Regions from separate parts of the Homo sapiens genome. Here region 2 is linked to region 1. Evidence: fine-mapped expression QTL. Tissue or cell type: whole blood. Region 1 holds a variant in brackets; the other region holds the start of a gene. All regions are shown on one strand. Distances are between the middles of the regions.

Region 1 (11,582 bases):
ACTTCTACTCTTGAAAAGACACTGTTAAAAATATAAGCTACAGACTGTGAGAAAATATTTATAAAATACATATTCATTAAAAGACATATTTCCAAAATACATAAAGAGCTCTCTCAACTCAGTAGGTTTTTAAAATCCCATTTAGAAATAGGCAAAAATTTGAACAGACACTTCAACAAATTAAATACATAGATGGCAAATAAGTACATGAAAAGATGCTCATCATTTAAGATATGTGATTGGCAGTTTCTTATAAAGTTAAATATACACTTACCGTATGACCCAAAAATCCCATTCCAAGGTATTTACTCAAGAGAAATGAAGACATATACCCACTCAAAAAACTGTACACAAATATTTATAATGGATTTATTAATAATCACCCCAAACTGAAAACACCCAAATATTTTTCAACCAGTGAATGGGTAACAAACAATCGTACATCCGTATAATGCAGTAAATAGACAGGAAATACTAAACATGCAACAACACGGGGGAATCTCCAATACATTATGCTAAGTGAAAGAAGCTGGACTCATAAGGTATAGGACAGTCTGCAAAAAAACAAAATAAGAGGGATAGAGAAGTAATCAGTGGTTGCCAGCAGCTGGAAATGGGGAGGGGTTGACCACGAATAGGCTCAAGTGAACATTTGGGTATGACAAAAAAGTTCTATATCTTGATTGTGGTGGTGGTTACATGACTGTCTGCATTTGTCAAAGCTTATTAAACTATACTTTTAAATGGTGAATTTTGCTGTGTATAAATTACAGCTCAATTTAAAAAAACAAAAACAAAAACAAAAAACTCTGACCCAGATCACTGTGGTCATTGTTGGTGGAGACTGCTGGCCTCTTAGCTCTCTTATGAGTGGGGTTACCAGCTAATCCCTGACATATTTGTGGTTCCAGGACTCCTAAAGGGTTGTGCAATGGTTTGTCTCCTTTCTCAAAGACAGCTGCTGGCTGATGGTAAAAGATAAAGAGAAAGAAAGATGTACACAGGCAAGTCAGGGAGAAATTTATCTTTCTTTTCCTTCCTGTCTTTCTTTTATATTCTTCCTCCCTCTTCTATTTCCTGCAGCCCTTATTTTTCTTTCACTTACTTTTCCTATTTATTCATCAGCTGAAACCTTGCTGAAAGGGATTAGCTGGGGGCTAAGTCGAGTAGGGCAAAAGGAAGCATTTGCTTCTAATCAGTAGTACACTGGTAAATGATTAGTAACCAGCTCTCTGAAACACCCACACACACACACAAACACACACACACACAAACACACACACACACAAACTAAAGTTTCTTTTAAATTTTACTGATATGAAGAGTATATAGCACAGGCTGGGTGCAGTGGCTCACGCCTATAATTCCCAGCAATTTGAGAGGCTGAGGCAGGTAGATCACTTGAAGTCAGGAGTTCAAGACCAGCCAAGGCAACATGGCAAAACCCCATCTCTAATAAAAAAAAAAAAATACAAAAATTAACTGGGCATGGTGGCACACGCCTGTAATCCCAGCTACTCAGGAGGCTGAGACAGGAGAATTGCTTGCACCCGCAGGCAGAGGTTGCAATGACCCGAGATCATGCCATTGCACTCCAGCCTGGGCAACAGAGCAAGATTCCATCTCAAAAAAAAAAAAACAAACAAAAAGAAAAAATAGAGAAAAAAGAGTATATAGCACATAGTGTATAAATATTAGCAAAACAGAAAATGTTCTTTAATGTGACTTTCATATAGCCAATAATTCTCCTGATTTTTGCCCATGATTGTTTCATTGATTTTTGCTGAACTTTTGTATCTGTAGCCAACCTATCATTATAAATAACAAACAAGTGTAGTTTTGACAAGAATCCTGGCTGATATTTTCTTAGTCATTAATGAGTAAGATGAAAATGAAACAACAAAGATATATGTTAGAACTTTATTTATTTGTCTATAATGTGAGCGACTTGGAAGAATTTGATAATGGTTTTTAAATACCGGAATAATATTTCCTCAATCTGTGTGCTATTCGCAAAGTAAGAGCAATAGACGTGACACGCTTTTAACTTTAATGTACAGCATTAACATTTTCTCCATCACTAGACTATCAACAAAACAATAAGTCAAGCCCAGATTTTGAGCATTTCTTGAGTTCCCTGGTGTAAATGCTCTCGCTCTGGCCAATTTCAAACTACCAATGTGACATCATTGAACTTAGTGTTTTGAGTAGATGTGCCCTAGAACATTATACAGTTTTTCCACCATTTAGATACAAGAGATGGAATGGCATCAGGAGCATAGGAAATGGTTAAATGTGAGAAAATGATTTGAAAGTGATGAGTTTTGAGTGCTTATTACCTTTGTTTTCAATATAATTTATTGAATTGCAATTTTATATTATTTAATTTTTAATAATAGCTGTGTGTAATTGCCAACTCATAAAATCTCTAAACTGACTTTCTCTCAGTTCTTTAAGCTGGTTCCAGTCTACTAAAGATCTTGGTGCAAGTCTCTGGATCCCTCCCCAACCCCAAATGACGGGGGAGCTGTAGCAGCATGAAGGGAGAGCGGATGCAAACATATGTTGTTTCTCTTGAGCCCCACCGCTCTCAACGTGCTGCTGGGGCTGCTTTGGTCTTGTGGGATGTTCCCCTGAGCTACTCAGACTGGTTGTTAGGGCGGATTATCAATGTCATCAGCCAAACCATAAACTGTGTCAAGATATTGATGTGAATTTCAGTGAAATAAATGATTTGGTTTTCTTTGTTAAATTTTATTCATTAAAATATGCTTTTATAAAATGAGGATTTATTGTAGAGGGCAATATTGTTATTCTGAAATGCCTTTCATTTTAAAGTAAACCTGGAAAGAGCACCACCAAAATGGTGACAATTCTTATCTTGAATGGTGAGATTTTTTTCTTTCTTCTTGAGATTTTCTGGAGTTTCCAAATTTTCTATGATAAACAGCTAAGATTTTGGTAGTATGAAAAACAATTGAGACAAATCTTTAGTAACTTGATATTCAAGTTACATTGGTGCTGTCCCTTTAAGTACTAGAAGAATACGTAGCACTTTCAGTAAAATAATGCCGAGGGAGGAGACATTGCTATGCTCAGTTTCATTTAAAAGCCAGATGTCCAGGAATTGGATATGGCTAATTATCAATTTCTACCCAGATGGAGAGTTTTCCTTTTTTTTTTTTTTTTGTCATTAGACAGAAAAGCACAGAGTCTCTGGCTGATTATTGCATTCAGCCACTTTAATTGGAAAGTTTTAAGAAATAGGTGGAGCTTAAAAGAAGGGAAGCTTAGTGTATCATGAGTGAAATGTTGATACAGGCACAAGAGAAACAAAAAAAGAAGAAACATGTATAATTGGTGTCATAAAGATTTTCAAACTTGCTCTATGACCAATTCAATTACTGCTGGAAATGGAATTCATACCTTCTCATGTCTGCCTTCCAAATTATACCAAGATTTAGCAGCTTATAACAAGAAGTATTTTTTTTTCACAGTTTCTATTGGTCAGGAATTTGAGCATGGTTTACCTAGGTACCCGTGCTTCAAGGTCTCTCATAAAGCTTTCAGCCAAGTCTGTGCTATCATCTGCAGCCTTGACTGGGAGAGTCACTTCCAAGCTCTCTCACATGATTGATGGCAGGGAGTTCCTCATGAACTGTTGGACTAAGAACCTCAGTTCTTCACTAGCTTTTGGGCAGAGGCCTCCCTCAATTCCACGTCAGGTGGGCCTCTCCATAAGGCAGTTTATGTTCTGGATTGGAGCATGTCTTCCACCTTGGTTCATCCATCATTTCTTGTCTTCTAGACACTTGCCAAATCTCTCATCAGCTGATGGAACATTCTTCATTCTCAATAGTCACAAATTTATTCCCTTTTATGCAGTTATTGGGCAGGGAACAGACCCAGGTTTTATCATGAAAGGGTGTTGCATTTTGTCAAATGCTTTTTCTGTATCAAATGATGTGATTACACATGAATTTTCTTCTGTAGCCTGTTGTATGTAGATAATGTAGATCACATTGATTTTCGAATATTGAACTAGCCATGCATACCTGGGAGAAATCCTACTTGCCATGTCATATTTTTTTTAAATATATTATTGGGTTTGATTTTCTAGTACACTCAAAATCCTCCATATCTGTGGGTTCTGCATCCATAAATTCAACCAACTGCAGATCACAAATATTTAGAAAAAGAACAATAAAAATAACAATATAACAATGAAAATAATAAAAATAAAAACCAATATAGTATAACAACAAGTTACATAGCATCTATCCTGTATTAGGTATTACAATCATGAAGTGCATAACAATATTTTAGTCAATAACAGACCACATATACAACGATGATTTCCTAAAATTATCATTCTATATTTTTGCTGTAACTTTTCTATGTTTAAATATACACACACCTACCATTGTGTTACCATTACCTACGGTATTCAGTGCAGTAACCTGTTGTATAAGTATGTAGCCTAGGAGCAATAAGCTAGATCATATATCCTATGTGTGTCCTAGGCTATACCATCTAGGCTTGTGTAAGTACATGCTATGATGTTTGCACAATAACAAAATCACCAAACGCATTTCTCAGAATGTATTCCTGTCGTTAAGCAGAGCATGTCTATAAAGTCATCTAGAGGTGATTTAACATATACAGAGGATATGCCTGGATTATATGCAAATACTGTGCCATTTTATATAAGAAACAAGTATCTGTGGAATTTGGTATTCTCAGGAGCTTGAAACCAATTCCCCATGGATTCCAAGAAAAAACAATGTTTCGTTGAGGATTTCTGTGTCTAAGTTTATGAGAAATATTGGTCTGTAATTTCCTTTTATTCTACTGTTTTTGTCTAGTTTGGGTATCAAAGTAATACTGGCCTCATAAAGTGAATAGAGAAGTAGTCCTTCTTCTTCTATTCTCTAGGATAGAATGTTTAAAATCAGAGCTTATTCTTCTCAGAATGTTTGGTAGAGTTCTCCAGTGAAACCATCTGGGTTTGGAGATTTCTTTTTCCAGAGCGTTTTAGTGGCAGTTCAATTTATTTCATGGTTATAGGACTATTCTGTTTCATCTTGTTTGAGCTTTGGTCATTTACGGTTTTCAAAAATTGGTCCATTTCTTCTAAAGTTGTTTAATTTATAAGTGTACATGTGTCCATGGTATTCCCTTTTATTCTTTTAATAGCTGCAAGAATTATAATTATATCCTGTTTCATGACTGATATTGGTAATTTGTGCCCCCTCTCTTTTTATTTTGTCAGGCTTGCTAGAGGTTTATCAACCAGCTTCATGTTCTATTGATTTCCCTATTGTTATTCTTTTCAATTTCATTGATTTCTGCTTTTATCTTTATTATTTCCTTCCTTTTGCTTTTTTTGAGTTTATTTTGCTCTTCATTTTTCTTGAGGTAGAAACTTAGGTGATTAATTTGGGATCTTTTCTAAGGTAATCATTTTATTTTTTTGAATGTAGTCATTTAGTGCTATGAATTTCCCTCTCAGCACCACCTTAGCTTCATTCCACCAATTTTGATATGTTGTATTTACATTTCCATTCAGTTCTGTATATTTTCTAAAACTTTCCTTTGAGACTTCCTCTTTGCTGAGGTATTATTTAGAATTGTGTCATTTAGCCCAGGCACAGTGGCTTACGCCTGTAATCCCAGCACTTTGGGAGGCCAAGGTGGGCAGATCACTTGAGGTCAGGAGTTCGAGACAAGCCTGGCCAACATGGTGAAACCTTGTCACTACTGAAAATACAAAAATCAGCCGGGTGTGGTGGTGGGCGCTTGTAATCCCAGCTACTCGAGAGGCTGAGGCAGGAGAATCGCTTGAACCCGAGAGGCGGAGGTTGCAGTGAGCCAAGATCGTGCCACTGCACTCCAGCCTGGGCGACAAGAGCAAAACTCCGTCTCAAAAAAAAAAAAAAAGAAGTGTGTCATTTAATTTTCAAGTGTATCGAGATTCTCCCATTGCCTTTCTCTCATTGATTACTAATTAAATTTCATTATGCTCAGAGGACATATTCTGCATAGTTTTGTTTTCTGGCCAAAGATGTGGTGTGTCATGGATGCTTTAAAAAAAAAAAGTGTATTCTACTGAGTGTTGTATTAATGTCAGTTAGATCCTA[T/C]TGATTAATTCTGTTGTTCAAGTCTTCTATGTATTTGCTGATTTTCTGCCTAGTAGTTCTATCAATTACTGAGAGAGGGATGTTGATGTCTCTAACTGTAATTGCAGAGGCCCATGATAAGGCATTGAATTTGAAAAAAAAAATACAACGTTTGAATATAAATTTAGGTGAAAAAGTAAATATTTCTTTAGAATGAAAAAATAAATCTAGAATGCTGACACAAAATCCACAAGCATCACAAAACCTGGAAAAATAACACAAGTGCATTATTTTACTGCCTGACATACCTCTGTAGTTTTGTCCTAAATTTTTTTCTAGATGCTCTTTAAGTGGTGATTTTGTTTTATTATAATTTAATAGATTGAATAGAAATATAATTGTCTTTCTTCTAACATGGTTAATCACAAAATTTTTATTATTGATAGTTTAGATTTTTTTCAGCTTGACAACTTGTTATTAGTAATGGCTTGTGATTTCTTAAGATTGTTATCTCATTTGGGAAAATTTCCATCATGTCTTTTCTTTTTCCGTGTTACCTACACGTTCATTTTCCATATGTGCTATAAAGTTTGGAAGAATTTTCTATAGACTAACTTCTGGCTGTATACATACTTCGGGTTCAGGTGCCACAGAACATGTTCATGTTACAACACAAACTCTGGTCCTGCCCCATTGTGTTAGAATGCAGACAGAGTCAGGCACTGGACTGTAGAAGTACTCCTGGAAGTTATTACTCCACTAAGATAGTTATCAATAAGATACTAGACACAGACATAACTATGAATCACATAAATATCCTCTGACCAAATTTTTAAAAATGTCTCTTAAACTCAACTTCCCCTTAGCTGGAACCCAAAGTTATTACAGCTACTCTAATACCACCTGACAAAACAGACCTGTGACAGACAGTAAGTCAAAGTGGAAAGAGAAATGCCCTTAACCAATTGTGATTAAGAGATACTACTTTTGCAGATTTTACAAAAACTTATGAACATATTGCTAAGGCATTTTCCAGGACCTTGAAAAGGGCCCACGCAAGTGAAGAGCCTTGAAGCTTAACATTCATTAGTTTCATCAAAAATTAAGTCCTGCTACTGATATTTTAGTGGAATATACAGAGGAGAAGGAAGTAAACACTGGTACTTAGCCCCCCATCTAGCAGCAGAAGTTTCTTGGATGTCTTTTTAAAAGTACTTTTTATTATGAAAAATTCCAAGCATACACAAAAGTAGTAAGAATAATATAATGAATACTCATGGTACTCATCATCCAGCTTCTGTTTGTTTGGACACTTTCAATTCAAGAAATTGTAGGAGATAAATACAAATATGAATAAGATATGGCCTATGCCCTCATGTATGTATCTATTATAGTAAAGAAGACAAGACATGAGGCCAACACATGGCAATGTAATACTACCTAAAGGAGAACAATAAGCCATGGAAGCAGAGATGACCTCTGGCCAGGGATGACCAGTAAGGGCTTCAAGGAAGACATGGTCTAGGCAAAAAACAAGTACACATTTTAACTTGTCGACGCTGAGACAGAATTGAGATATCTAAAATACATATTTTCTGGGTTTTTACCCTGGAGCTCCTCTTGACATTTAGGAAATAATCCAACCTCCTTACTATCTATCTAGACCTCTAACTGGATACTCAGATTCATTCAGATTTAAGTATCATGTATTGAGTGCTTGCCAAGTGTGACGGCTAATTTTATGTGTCAACTTGACTGGGCTAAGGGACGCCCAAATAAGTGATAAAATATTATGTCTGGGTGTGTCTGTGAGGGTGTCTCAGAAAGAGAGTAGCATTTGAATTCATAGACTGAATAAAGAAGATCTCCCTCACCAATGTGGGTGAGCATCTTCTCCTGCCTTGGACGTTAACTCTCCTGTTTTTTCGAGCTTTCAGACTCAAACCGGCATTCATACTGTCAGCACCCTGATTATCAGGCCTTCAGACTCAGACTGAATTACACCACTAGCTTTTCTGGTTCTCCAGCTTATGGATGGCAGATTGTGGGATTTCTTGGCTTCTATAACCACATGAGCCAATTTTTATAATAAATCTCATATATATTCTAGTGGTTCTGTTTCTTTGGAGAACCCTAAATAATGCACCAGGTGCTGGTCATTTTCATATGTACCATTTCATTTAATCCTCACAACACAACAAGCCTGAGATAGATATTATAAGCACCATGTCTGAAGATGAGAAGAAAAATCCAGAGAGACAACTTGTATAAAGCTGCACAGATTAAAAAAAAAAAACATAACTAAGCCCAGAAATTCTAACTTCAAGTGTTTTTTATCACCTACCCCTTCATGGTACTTTTATTAAATTTTCAAAATACTTCCCCATTTCACAAACCTTCAGTGGCTCTCAGTCACTACATGATGAAATTAAATGTCCTTAGTTTACCATTTTCCATTCTCTACAATCCAGTTTGGTTTTCCTTCAACTTTATTTTCCATTTGTAAGACTATGTCTTAATTCTCTTACTGTGTTTAGGAGATTGCCCTCCTCATGAAGCAGAAATTCCCTCTCACTATCGAAATTAGAAGTTCATATGCTCATTTTCCTGGCCTTCCTATCAATTACCGCTGTGCTGTCAAACATGGTAGCCACTGGCCACACGTGGCTACTGAGCACTTGACGTATGTCTAGTGGCACATGTTGAAATATTTTGGATATATTGGGTTAAATAAAATATATTATTAAAATTGGTTTCACCTGGTTTTTGTTTTGCTTTAGAGTCAGGGTCTCCCCCCCGTCACCCAGGCTGGAGTGCAGTGTCACAATCATAGCTCACCGCAGCCTGGAACTCCTGGGCTCAAGTGATCCTCCGGCTTCAGGTTCCTGAGTAACTAGGACTACAGGCATGCACCACCATGCCCAGCTAATATTTTTTTGTAGAGACAATGTCTTACTATATTACCCAGGCTGGTCTCAAATTCCTGGTCTAAAGCAATCTTCCCATCTCAGCCTCCCAAACTGCTTGGATTAGAGGCTGGTTTTTTGTTTTTGTTTTTGTTTTTAAACTGTCTTATGTGGCTACTAGAAAATTTAAAATTATGTATGTGGCTTGCATTATATTTCTATCAGACAGCATGTAGGTAGAGTGTTAATGTGTTACTAGGTTATATCCATGATTTGCCCCCATTCTAGGCTTGAGGTTGAAAGCTAATGTTGTGAATATGAAGTGACCCTCCATTCTGTTGAGAGTAGTGGCAGTGATAGTAACTGCATCTATCTTCCAGAAGCAGCAGAGGCATCATCCACTCTGGGTCAAGTGGTACTGGCAGTCTCAGTTTTGGTATTTGCATCCAGCAGTGGCTACAGTGATGGCTTCTTGGGACCAGTTCCGGGCATAATGTTGCGTGTTGTTCCTGAAGATCCTGTAGATGTCAAATATCCTTCTAATAAATTCCTTTTCTGCTAAGGCCCTTCATGAAGTCTCCCTCTCCACCCCAGTCCACAGGATCCTTCCCTTTTTCAGCATCAATAGTGAATAAGATCCAAACCACGCACTTGGCACTTTGCCCATACTATTTATCTTATCATAGGAAAGTGTCTAGTTTTCTCAGCCAGACTGTAAAATTCCCTGTGGCAGGAACCCTGTCTTTACATAATTGTTTCTTAGTATCTGTCAGACCTTGGTCACAGCATCACTGGAGGAATACTTGTTAGTTACCACTGCAGATCTTTGAAGTAGGCAGGGTGGCTGTCATTATCTCTGTTTGTACAGATGAGGAAACTGTTGTTCAGCGACTGGCTTGAGGTTGTGCAGCTGGCTTGCTCATACTGGAGCGGTAGCTCAAGCCTTCTCACTGCCTGCCAACATCTCTTTCCTCTATTTCAGGCCCTGCCAGATAAAATGGTGTATTAATTTCATAGAGCTGTTATAACAAAGTACCACAGATTGGGTGGCTTAAAACAACAGACATTTATTGACTCAGAGTTCTGAAAGTTATAAATCCAAAGTCAAGGTGTCCACAGGGCCATGTTCCCTCTGAAACCTGTAGGAAAGTCCATGCATGCCTCTTCCTAGCTTCTGATGGTTTGTTGGCAGTCTTTGGCATTCCTTGGCTTGTAGCTGCATAACTCCAATCTGCCTTTGTCCTCATCTGGCATCCTCACGTTCTGTCTATGTCTTCACACGGTCATCTTCTTAAAGGGACAGTAGTCATGGTGGGTTATCCTACCCTATTGCAGTATGACCTCATTTTATCTTAATTATATCTGCAATAATTTTATTTCAAAATAAGGGTACATTGTTTGGTACTGAAAGTCAGAACTTCAACATACCTTTTTTCGGAGTAGTACAATTCAGTCTCTAACAGATGGTAACCATAAGAGAAGTAAATACCATAGAAACTGAAGACTTTGTCTTGTTTCTAGGATTTATTCCAAGGATTACATTGTAGTGAGGTAGAAGGCGGGGAAGTGTTTTCAAGTATATATTCCTACCTACTACTTGATTTGCATATGGACTGATAGGGCTTGGTTGAAGAGCATATGTTATGGGTTCAGTGAATCTCTTCTCTCATATAAGGACTAAATGGCCCCCACAGATAAGATGCCAGCCCCATCCTTTCTGGCAGGTCTCCCCAGCCATCCTGAGGCAGCTATCCCATTTAGAGGGGAAATGATGGTGTGTAATTCTGATAAGTCAATGGAAGAAGAGGTTGTTGCAGTGAGCCTATAACTCTTTTCCAGAAGGGTCTTTGGGGGTCTAAGGTATCAGCTGGGTCCTAGATGGGCCAGCAAGTCCCATCTAGGCACATTGAGAAGCCTAACCAATAGATGCAGCTAGCCTTTAGACTATGTATCCATTTTGCTGGTATTTCTTCTTTTCCTTTAATGAAAATATATATGTTATTAATAAAAATAAATACAGAATTTAAAAAACATTAAAAGGAAAATGCTAAAATGAGTTCTGCTCTAGTTCAAAAGAAAAGAACGACAGTAGTTTCCAGGCAGGCCCTTTGAGGTCCTACACAGGGATAGTAATACGACTGGGACCCTTAAGTGGGGGTAACTGAATGAAATCTCTAATGAAAGCCTGCTAATGACACAGAATCAAATCTCTGAGTAAGCCTGTCTCCAAATCCAATTTCTCTAGATGGGAAGGGCATGGGCTTTATGGTCAGCACTATCCCTTAATGTGAGACCTTGGGCAAGGGACTTAATCTCTCTGAATTTGCCCATGTATAAAAGTGAGGATAATTATCTAGCAGGGCTGTGGTGAGGATTTCATATCTAACATAGTTCACAGCACATATAATAGGGATTGCATTAACTTGAAGCCTTCCTTCTCTCCATACTACAACATATGTAATATAAACCCTGCCCACTGTCCCACAATCACCCACCCTTCTCCATCCCATCTGCTCTCTCTCCAACCTTCCTACTTATATTCTAGCTGAGGAGACAT
Region 2 (10,740 bases), 220 kb after region 1:
TATAGTGCTGGACTCTCGTCTTGAACTCCTGGCCTCAAGCAATCCCTCTGCCTCAGCACCCCAAAGTGCTGAGATTACAGATGTGGGCCATCATGCCCCGCCCCCTAAACATATTTAATCTTTCTAACATTGGCACTAAAATATGCCTAAATGTGCTTTACATTCCTGTGTAGTTCCAGACCAAGCCTGGCCTCTGTGTGACCTTGGGAAACACACTCCACCTTTCTCTGTCCCTGAATTGTCATTTTAAAACTAAAGGAACTGGACTACCTGTTTGATCTTTAAGGCCCAACTCTGATAGTCCCAGGAAGGTGGCAGCCCAAGTCTTAAGGAAAATATGAAATAAAAAGAGGAAAAGTAATAGACATTTTTATAGAATTTTAAGCAAAAAAGTTACTGGGTAGGACAGAAAGCAAACCTTCCCCTTTCCTTAAATAGAAGATAAAGTCTGAGTTTGCCTCACAATTCCATTTGTACAAAGGAGCAAGTACAGGACTAGGGCCCTGGCTCACTAGCGCCCACCCTGGAGGGACTGCACCAGGAGGACTTACTCACATATGAGGGTGCAGCACAGCATACACCCTCCAGAGGACTCTTATTTGTGCAATCCCATTAGAAGCAGGGCTGCACCAGACATTAAAGGCCATATATTGTATGATTCCGTCTACATGAAATGCTCAGAATAGGCAAACTCATAGAAACAGAATGCAGATTAGTGGTTTCCAGGGGCTGGGTAGGAGGAATAGGGAGTGATTGGTGATGGTTTCCCTTTGGGGTGATAAAAATGTTTTGGAATTAGACAGTGGTGATGGTTACACAACTCTGAACATACTAGCCACTGAACTGCATACTTTAAAAGTGTACAATTTATAAGTATCTAAATTATATCTTAGCAATGGGGGGAGGTCTATCTTTATAATAAACATTTCCAGTAGTCTGCCTCCTGTTATCAGTAAAAGAGGGAAGTAAGGAGATTAAGGTAATTATGTCAACAGTTCTTGATGAAAGGAAGGCTGGAATTAGATTCCGAATTGCCTATATAAGATGGCCAAAAATTCTAGAAACTAGAAGTCAGAGATGAAAGACCCTGTTCTCAAAGAGCTCAAAGGGAAATTATGCACACGGAAAGAACAACCAGTAGGAAGAGGGGTATACAATAAGGTACTGGTTGCTCCCCAGTGAGCACTGGGCAAGTCTTCAACCATCTACATGCTCCAACGTGCAGCAGACCCTGACCAGGAGCCAGGTGCACCTGAGCTTCACTCACAGACTTCCAAAGGGAGTCCAAAGGGAGAAAAGCTAGGAAGCCAAGTGAGCTTTTCCCAATTTCATCTTTGCATCCTGCAGTCTCTTGACCCAATACTGACACTACTCCCCTTCTTGTGATGGCCCAAGGAGAGGAAACAGCAAGAGAAAGGCTGAAAGGTGAGAAAGGAAGGAAGTAAATTACTGGCAATAGTTTGGCAAGATCGCGAACTCCTTACAGAGGTCACAGCAGCCAAAGTGACCTTAAAATATAAATCGTATCATGTCACCCCCTATTTAAAACCCATCCAAGGCAATCAGAAAATGCAAACTCCCTACCACCATCTGGAATGAAATGCACACTTCTACCACTGACCCTACCTGCTGGCACCTGCACCTCTCTGGTGCCTCCCCCACCACTCTTTGCTCACACAGAGCTAAGCTGTGTGCTGCCTCAGGGCCTGACACACTCTTCTCCCTCTCCCTGGCTCTGCTCTTGGCTGGCCCCTTCTCATTCCTCAGGTCTTCTCTACCAGAACTGTTTATTTACTTTAGAGGGCTTACCACACGGTCACTACTTTGCCTATTTCTTGCCTGGGTAGACTGCTCATTCAACAAGGACAGAGAGTATGACTACCTTATTTCTTGCCATATCTAAAGTGCTACCACAGTGCCACACATGTGACTGGCATTTGATTTTTGCTAAATAGATGAACCTGTATTTTAAAAAATAACTCTGGCTAGGGAGCATAAGAGTTACAAGAGGTATGGAGAATAGTTAAAATGAAGGTGACTGCTATGGTCTGAATGTTGTGTTCCCCCAACATCCATATGTTGGGACCTAATACCCAATGTATTAGTATTAAATAGTGGTGCCTTTAGGAGGCAATTAAGACATGAGGGCTTGGCCAGGTGTGGTAGCTCACGCCTGTAATCCCAGTACTTTGGGAGGCTGAGACAGGTGGATCACCTGAGGTCAGGAGTTCAAGATCAGCCTGGCTAACATGGCAAAACCGCATCTCTACTAAAAATACTAAAATTACTCAGGCGTGGTGGCACACGCCTGTAATCCCAGCTACTAGGGAGGCTGAGGCAGGAGAATTGCTTGAATTTGGCGGGGGTGGGGGCGGCCAGGGATGGCGGTTGCAGTGAACTGAGATTACGACACTGCACTCCAGCCTGGGCAATATAGAGCGAGACTCTGTCTCAAAAGAAAAGAAACAGGCATGAGAGCTCTGCCCTCATGCATGGGATTCGTGTCCTTATAAAAGAGGCTTGAGGGAGCCAGTTGACCCTTCTACCATGTGAGGAAGCAGTGAGAAGATGCCATCTTTGAAGCAGGGAGCAAGCCCTCACCGGACACCAAATCTGCTGGTGCCTTGGTCCTGGATTTCCCAGCCTCCAGAACTGTGAGCAATAAATTTCTATTGTTTATAAATTATCCAGTCTAAGGTATTTTGTTATAGCAGCCCAAGCAGACTAAGACAGTGTTCACAGGTCACACTTTAAGCAACATGGATTTTGATGCTACTAAAGACCACCATTTTCAAATACTTTTTCTTTCTTTTGGACAATTATACAATCATATTGGTTATGCAATGAACAGACTTGATTAGACTAATGTAACACCGACCGCCTGAATATTTGCTCACGGGGGTCTGTATGCTTTATTCTGTGCACACAATCCCGTTTTTCCTTGAGTCTCCTCCATAAAGCAGAGCCCGGGGTAGGCCTCAGGGCTATATGTAGCTAGACTTTCTGGAGTATGACTAAGTGTCTGTACCGGACTAACACAGTAACAACTACTAGGTAACTGCAATTTAATTGCTCAAATCAGAACTAACTTCTAAAACATGTTTCTTCCCTTATAGTCATAGACTAAATTCTAGCCTAACTAGTGACAGATACAAGCTGTAATAATGTGTTATCTGTGTCTTAGCCTCCTAGGTGAAAATTTTTTCTTCCTTTATTTTTATCCCTATGGTTGAAGAAAGTAGCAGAGACCAACTGAATGAAGGTAAAAACCACTGGCTTTCTTAGGAAGAACTGTAGAGCAAAACAAAATTCATTTCTGGAGAGGAATAATTCCTACTTGAACGAATGGAAAAATAAAATCGTAGAATTAAAAAAAATAAACACATTGTAGAATAAAAACAACTTTGGTAATAAATTCAGATCCTAATCGTAAAAATTCATTTTTTAAGTAGCTCAATTATATAAATGACTCACTTATATAACCAAGGAGCTATATCATGGAGCATTTTTAAAGGTTTTTGTTTTTACACTAGGGTAAGCATTTCCCAAGTTTGTCTGTAACATGTGGCTTTTTCAAAATAAAAGAAAATGAGAAAATTCTCCCTACTGTCTCAATTAACGTAATTATGAATTAAGGAAGACCTAATTGATAGGGTTTTACTCTCTAGGTGCATAAATATATGGTGAAATACTCATTAAAATAATTACTAGACAGAAGTGCTCAGCTCCCTGTACCTTCTGAGATCCTCCCACCAGTAAAGGGAGGACGACAGAGTGGTAGCGCTTTCCTGTTAGTGTGCCAAAGAGAGGGGACACTGGTCACCAGGATAATCTAATGAAAATACCTCTGGGCTAATCGTCAAGAGATAGGGATTAAGTTAAGGTTCCAAAATGGTGAATACTATCCCCACCCCTTATGTCCAACCTCATCCCTCCCCGCCGAGCTTTCACTTTTCTCCCGGGAATTGCGGATGTGCAGTCTACTGCAGCAGCCCTGCGGGGAGGAATGGAGGAAGGGAAGGGGACGGCTGCAGGGTGTGTCACTTACGAGATGTAGGCTGGGTAGCCAAATCCTATCAGGTTGCAGAGGAGAGAGGCTCCATAACCGAACACCAGGTACAAGGCCACCAGTCCGATGACACCTGGGGACCACAAGGAGAGAAGTGGGTCGGGCAGCATGAGAGCCGTTCACGCGGGACAGCCGCCGCCCACACCGCGAGGCTGGGCCTGTTGTAGGAGTTTTCCTCTCGACTCGATTAAAGGAGCGAGAAAAACAAACCACACGAAAGCTGGGCCTGCGCGTCCGCTGGGCTATGCCTTGAAGTCTGGGGATACCAGGCAGCCCCACCATTGTGCCTCTCCTACCTCCCGCAGGGGGCCCCGGCGCTTTGCGCAGCAACCCCCGGCGCCCGGGACGGTCCCAGGCACCCGCTTCCGCCCTCTCGCAGGGCCTGCTGGGCAGCGCTCCAGCCTGGGAAGCTGCGCTCAGCGGGGAGCGTCCCGAGAGGCCCGGACTCCCGCACACGCTGCAGTAGCAGCCCCCGCCCACCCGAGAGGCGCCCTCTCCGGGCGGAGCTCCACGGAGGGTCGGGTAGGACCGGGTACCTCCGTCAACGCGCCCGCCCGCAGGGGCCCCGCCGTCCGCGCCCACCGCGCAGGACAGCAGGAATAGGGCGCCGGGCCGCGGGGCAGACATACGTCAGCGCTGGCCCTTCCAGCTGCCAGCGCCCGGCGCCGCAGCTGCCCTCCAGCCCCGCGACCCTCAGCCTGGGCAGCCCCCGCGGGGTCCTCCGATGCCCACGCTTTCCGGGAGGCCAGCCTGATCCCTGAATATGCTGCTTGTCCCGTCTGTCTCCGACTCCACCTTTCCCGAGTCCTCTCCCTGCTTCCTTCCCCAGCAGCTGGGGCAGCGGCGGCTCCCGTGGCCCTACCAGCGGCGGCGACCCCCGGCCACCCACCAAGAGCGATGAAGCTCCTGTTCACGCCGGTTTTGGCCTCGAGCTTGGCCAGAAGGTCAGTCATGCAGTTCTTCTCGTGCAGGAACCGGTCGAACCTCTCCCTCATGGCCGCAGACATGGCGGGGACCGTCTCGCCGCTCGGGGCTGTTCCTAGTGCCGGATAGACTGGAGCGGCGACTGCGGCGGAGCAGCGGCAGGCGGGGACCGCGGCGCGTCTACGCGTCCTCCACTCGCCTCCGCTCGCCCCGCCCGGCCGCCGCGCGCCCCTCCTCGGCCGCCGCGCGCCCCTCCTCCCCCGCCCAGCGCCAGGGGGACAGCGCCACACCCTGGCGGGGGCGGGCCTGCAACTCCGCGGACGCTGCGAGGTGGCCTGCCTGTTGACAGTCTTAACCCATTGCGGGGTAAAAAGGATGTGGCGTGGGGGCGTGCATTTTGTGTCTCTCGTGGGTCCCCTTCTCAAATCGGACTATTGCAAAAAGCAGGCAGAAAGGAGGCAGGCGTCCTTGTTGCTCCCGCCTGCAATTCACTGCGATGAGTTTGGCACCTACATTGCTGTGCTAAACCTAAGGCATTTTTGACCTAAAAAATTGAAATGTTTGAGCATCGTGAAAGAACTCTTTGGAAGCAGTCCTGCTTTCTCCCTCTTTGCCTTAACTTGGCAGTTTTTCTCACCTACAGACAATCGTTGCCTTGTAAAGACCCTTGAAGAAATCTAACACATCCTCCCTGGGGTACACCTTTTCCAAGCAAAAACTGCATTAAATCTTTTCATGGTGGGCTTGCGTTGTCTTGGTGTCTGATACTGTGGCAAGTGTCCAAATTCTCTCTGTGGAGCCAATATACTCTGCACTTCCTACAGTCAAAATACTCTGAAGAAGACGGAGATTCTAAGGTCCAAGCCTTAGGGCAGGAGCTCATTTTTGCTTCCTTCAGAATGAGTTGGCCATGCTCTTCCTCCACCTAAACCTAGGCTCCTCTTATCTCACCCATATGACTTCCAGACACTCCTAAAATTACTCTTGTTGACTCCTATTCTGCACACTGCTGCAGAATTTTTGTCCGAAGCTCCGTATTATTATCCTAACAGACTAGAGCTCCCATTCCTTGGCAGAGCATTCAATGCCCTGCCCACAACTGGCCCCGAACATTCTGTCTTGGTCCTACACAACCCCTCTGTGCTTTCAAATCTACTTAATTACCCTACTGCCTTCCACTTCTGCAAAAAGTTATCTTGCCCACGCCTAGCTTTTTCCTTTTATGCTAATTCTCCTTCCTCCTTTCTTCCTCAGAGCTTCTTAGCTCAGCTTTCTCAGCTGTTCCTACCACCACCCAGCCAAATCAGTGAACAAGTGAAACAACCTGCTGTCTACTTCTGTCTTTTCACCTACAGTTAATTCTCAATGTGGCAGACAGTAGAATCTGTTTTAAAATGTGCGTCAAGTTGTGCTATGTTTTTGTTCTCAACCCTCCAGCAACTTCCTATCTGCCTGAAGGAGGGCATCAGGGTCACAGGTGACATGGTTCATCCCTCCCCTTTCTGATGTCTTCCCTTACTGCCTCCCTCCTTGCTGTGCCTCAGACAAGGTAAGCCCATTCCTGCCTCTGGGCGTTCGTTCACTTTTCTTCTATTTCAGTGGTTCTCAACCAGGAGCACTTCCTCTCCCCTTCTTCCTCCTGGGGGGAGGAGTAGCAATGTCTAGAGATACTTTCGTTGTGAAACAGATTGTCACACAAGGAGAGCAGGAGGTGGCAAGTGCAACTAGCATCTAGTGGTTAGAGACTAGGGGTGCTGCTAAACATCCTGTAACACACAGGACAGCCCCCACAACAAAGAATTATCCAGCCCCAAATGTCAATAATGTGACAGTCCAGAAACCCTCCTCTATCTGAAAGTATCTTTCCCCAGTTAACCATTTAACTGTCCCCTTCCATTATTCAGATATTTGTTCAAATGGTACCCCTAATCTCAAATTGCAACCCCCAGTGGTCTCTAGCTTGATTTTTCTCCATAGAATTTATTACTGTCTGGCATTATGTTCTACTTTTTTTTTTTTTTTTTTGAGACTGTCTCACTCTGTCACGCAGGCTGGAGTACAGAGGCGTGGTCACAGCTCACCGCAGCCTCGACCTCCTGCTGTGCTCAAGCCATCCTCCCACCTCAGCCTCCCAAGTAGCTGGGACCATAGCCGTGTGCCACCATGTCCGGCTAATTTTTTCTGTTTTTAGTATAGATGGGGTTTCACTATGTTACCCAGGCCAGTCTTGAACTCTGTGATCTGCCCACCTTGGCCTCCCAAAGTTCTGGGATTACAGGTATGAGCCACCACCATGCCAGACCATGTTCTATTTTTAAATTATCTTTCTTTCCTCACTAGATTATGAGCTCCGTGAGGGTAGACATTTTTGCTTATTTTATTTGCTTCAATATTTTAAGCACATTGAACAGTGCCTGGCACTTAGTAGTTGTTCAATAACTATTTGTTGAATTAATGAATGAATGAATATCTAACATGTGTTGTACCACCCAGTATTCCAAGTGTTACGTGGACTAGTTCATTTAATCCTCACAGCTGCATGAGGAAGATGCTACCTGTTTCATCCTCATTTAAGGAAAAAAAAAATGAGACATAGTGAGTTCCCATATCACAATAAGTGGCAGAGCTAGAATTCAGAATCAGGCTCTTACCCCTATATTACATTGCTATTATGGGTTGAATTGTATTCTACCTCCCTAAAGAAGACATGTTGGAATCCTAACCTACAGTACCTCAGAGTGTGATCTTATTTGGTAATAGGGTCTTCAAAGAGGTAGTCAAATTCAAATGAACTCCTTAGGGTGGACCTCAATCCAGTGTGACTGTTGTCCTTATAAAATGGGAAATTTGGCCAGGCGCGGTGGCTCACACCTGTAATCCTAGCACTTTGGAGGCCGAGGCAGGTGGATTACGAGGTCAGGAGATCGAGACTATCCTTGCTAACACGGTGAAACCCCATTTCTACTAAAAATACAAAAAATTAGCCGGGCGTGGTGGCGTGCACCTGTTGTCCCAGATACTCAAGAGGCTGAGGCAGGAGAATGGTGTGAACCCAGAAGGCAGAGCTTGCAGTGAGCCGAGATCAAGCCAATGCACTCCGGCCTGGGCAACAGAGCGAGACTCTGTCTCAAAAAAAAAAGGGGGGGTGAAATTTGGACGGAGACAGATGCATATAAAGGGAAGACTGTGAAGAAACACAGGGAGAAGATGGCCATCTACAAGCCAAGAAGAAAGTCCTGGAACAGATCATTCCCTCACAACCCTCACAAGGAACCAATCCTGCTGAGACCTTGATCTTGGACTTCCAGCCTCCAGAGCTGTGAGATAATAAATTTCTGTTTTATTTATTTATTTAGAGACAGGGTCTCACTGGGTCACCCAGGCTGGACTGCAGTGACACAATCTCCACTCACTGCAACCTCCACCTCCCAGGTTCAGGCAATTCTTCCACCTCAGCCTCCCAAGTAGCTGGGGCTACAGGTGTGTGCCACCATGCCAAGCTAATTTTTTTTTTTTTTGTAGAGATGGGGTTTCACCACACTGGCCAAACTGGTCTCAAACTCCTGACCTCAAGTGATCTCCCCATCTTGGCCTCCCAAAGTGCTGGGACTGCAGGCATGAGCCACTGCACCTGGCCTCAATTTCTATTATTTAAGCTACCCAGTTTGTGAGACTGTTACAGCAGCCCTAGGAAACTAGTACAGCTGCTTAGCAGAATAACTGAACTGTAAACTTCAAACCAGTTGTGAGTTTGTATAATTTCCTACTGAGTACAGTATGTATATTAAGTTGGGGTTGTTTTTGAATACTTAAAGTGATTCATAATTTGATTTTTTTTTTTTTTTTGAGATGGAGTCTGCCTCTGTCACCCAGACTGGAGTCCAGTGGCATGATCTTGGCTCACCGCAACCTCAGCCTCCCAGGTTCAAATGATTCTCGTGCATCAGCCTCCTGAGTAACTGGGACTACAGGTGCACACCACCACGCCTGGCTAATTTTTGTATTTTTTTGTAGAGATGGGGTTTCACCATGTTGGCCAGGCTGGTCTTGAACTCCTGACCTCAAGTGATCTGCCTGCCTCAGCCTCCCAAAGTGCTGGGATTACAGGTGGCCACAGTGCCGGTCCTGATTTTTTTTTTTTTTTTTTTTTTTTTTTAGACAAGGTTTGACTGTATCACCCAGGCTGAAGTGCAGTGCACAATGTTGGCTCACTGACCTCCACCTCCTGGGCTTACGCCATCCTCCCACCTCAGCCTTCCAAGTAGCTGGGACTACAGGTGTGCACCACCACACCCAGCTAATTCTTGTACTTTTTTGTAGAGATGGAGTTTTGCCATGTTGCCCAGGCTGGCCTCAAACTTGTGAGCTCAAGTGATCCGCCCATCTCAGCCTCCCAAAGTGCTAGGATTACAGGCATGAGCCGCTACACCCAGCCTCACAATTTGATTGTTTTATTTATTATTTATTTATTTTAGCAAAGGAGCAAAATCCTTTTAAGTTAGGTATCCAAATCAACCTAGGTTTTTGTCACTACATTTCATGCAGTGGCAACATTTGTACTACATTAACTATGCATGGAATATCTAGAAACATATTGTTCATTTGCATTTCTTCCTTTCTTCCTTTTTTTTTAATTTTTTTATTTTTCAAGACAGGATCTTACTCTGTTGTCCTGGCTGGAGTGCAGCGGCACCATCATGGCTCACTGGAGCCCTGACCTCTTGGGCTCAAGCAATCCTCCCACCTTGACCCCACAAAGTGCTGGGATTATAGATGTGAGCCACTGTGCCCAGCCCTTGGCTTTCTTTCTGTAAATATTGCTCTTTTCAATTTTCTCTTGACATAGATTCCAAATTTCTTCTTTCTTCAAGCATTCAACCAATGGTGAGGCAAAGCAGTATAGTGAGGCATAGTGTGGAGTTCTATCTCTGGATTCAGTCTGTATGAGCTAAATCCCAGCTCTACCATTTAGCTATGTGACTTTGGGCAAGTTGCATAAGCTCTCTGTGCTTCTGGTCTCTCATCTGTAAAACAAGGATAAAAATAGTACCTATTTCACAGAGTTCTCATCATGGTTAGGTGAGTTACTATTTGTAATGTTTTTAGAAGAGTACTTGATGCAAAATAAGTGTTTAAATAATTTAAGAAAGAAAAAAAACACAGCTAGGTGTAATTTTTTTTTTTTTTTTTTTTTTTTTTTTGAGACAAGGTCTGGCTCTGTCACCGAGACGGGAGTGCAGTGGTGTAATCTCAGCTCACTGCAACCTTTGCCTCCTAGGCTCAAGCCATCCTCTCACCTCAGCCTCCCAAGTAGCTGGGACTACACGCACATGCCTCCAAGCCTGGCTAATTTTTGTATTTTTTGTAGAGATGGCATTTCACCATGTTGCTCAGGCTGATCTTGAACTCCTGAGCTCAAGCAATCCTCCCACCTCAGGCTGCCAAGGTGCTGGGATTACAGGAGTGAGCCATCATGCCCAGCCTCTAAAATTGAGATAGAGAAATATTACATTATTCTTGACTTTAGTAAATTACAATCAGATTCGGGGAGTATGGGATCCTAGTTTATCCCATCAGCACTGTAAACCTTAGATTCTTTCATAGCAGAGGAAAGAGATGCAGAAAATAAGAACCCAGAACCCTGCCTAAGGTCTCAAACTATTCACTTACTCATATTTACTAAATATATCCTGTGTGCCAGATGCTGTTAGATCTGGGAACTAGATAGATGAGATCTGTTTTGGAGG

What was found. PIP is the estimated chance that this variant, and not a neighbour inherited with it, causes the effect.
Region 2: it holds the start of REEP5, and the variant in region 1 is the best candidate, but not a certain one, in a credible set for the expression of REEP5 in whole blood (TOPMed, PIP 0.62).

What each region holds. Positions count from the first base shown.
Region 1 is chr5:112,694,393-112,705,974 of GRCh38, forward strand. No RefSeq gene overlaps it. Among named protein-coding and RNA genes, the nearest start is that of APC, 38 kb to the right of the region's middle. RefSeq lists a silencer at 9,760-10,054 and an enhancer at 9,760-10,054. The variant T/C (reference allele first, on the strand shown) is at 6,141.
Region 2 is chr5:112,917,115-112,927,854 of GRCh38, forward strand. It overlaps REEP5 (receptor accessory protein 5), which reads right to left and starts at 5,113. Exons shown (of 5, transcript NM_005669.5): 1 at 4,959-5,113; 2 at 4,049-4,142. The coding sequence starts at 5,076. LOC105379123 (a long non-coding RNA gene) reads left to right here and starts at 5,273. Exons shown (of 3, transcript XR_948675.3): 1 at 5,273-6,542. RefSeq lists silencers at 4,304-4,753, 5,114-5,383 and an enhancer at 6,516-6,635.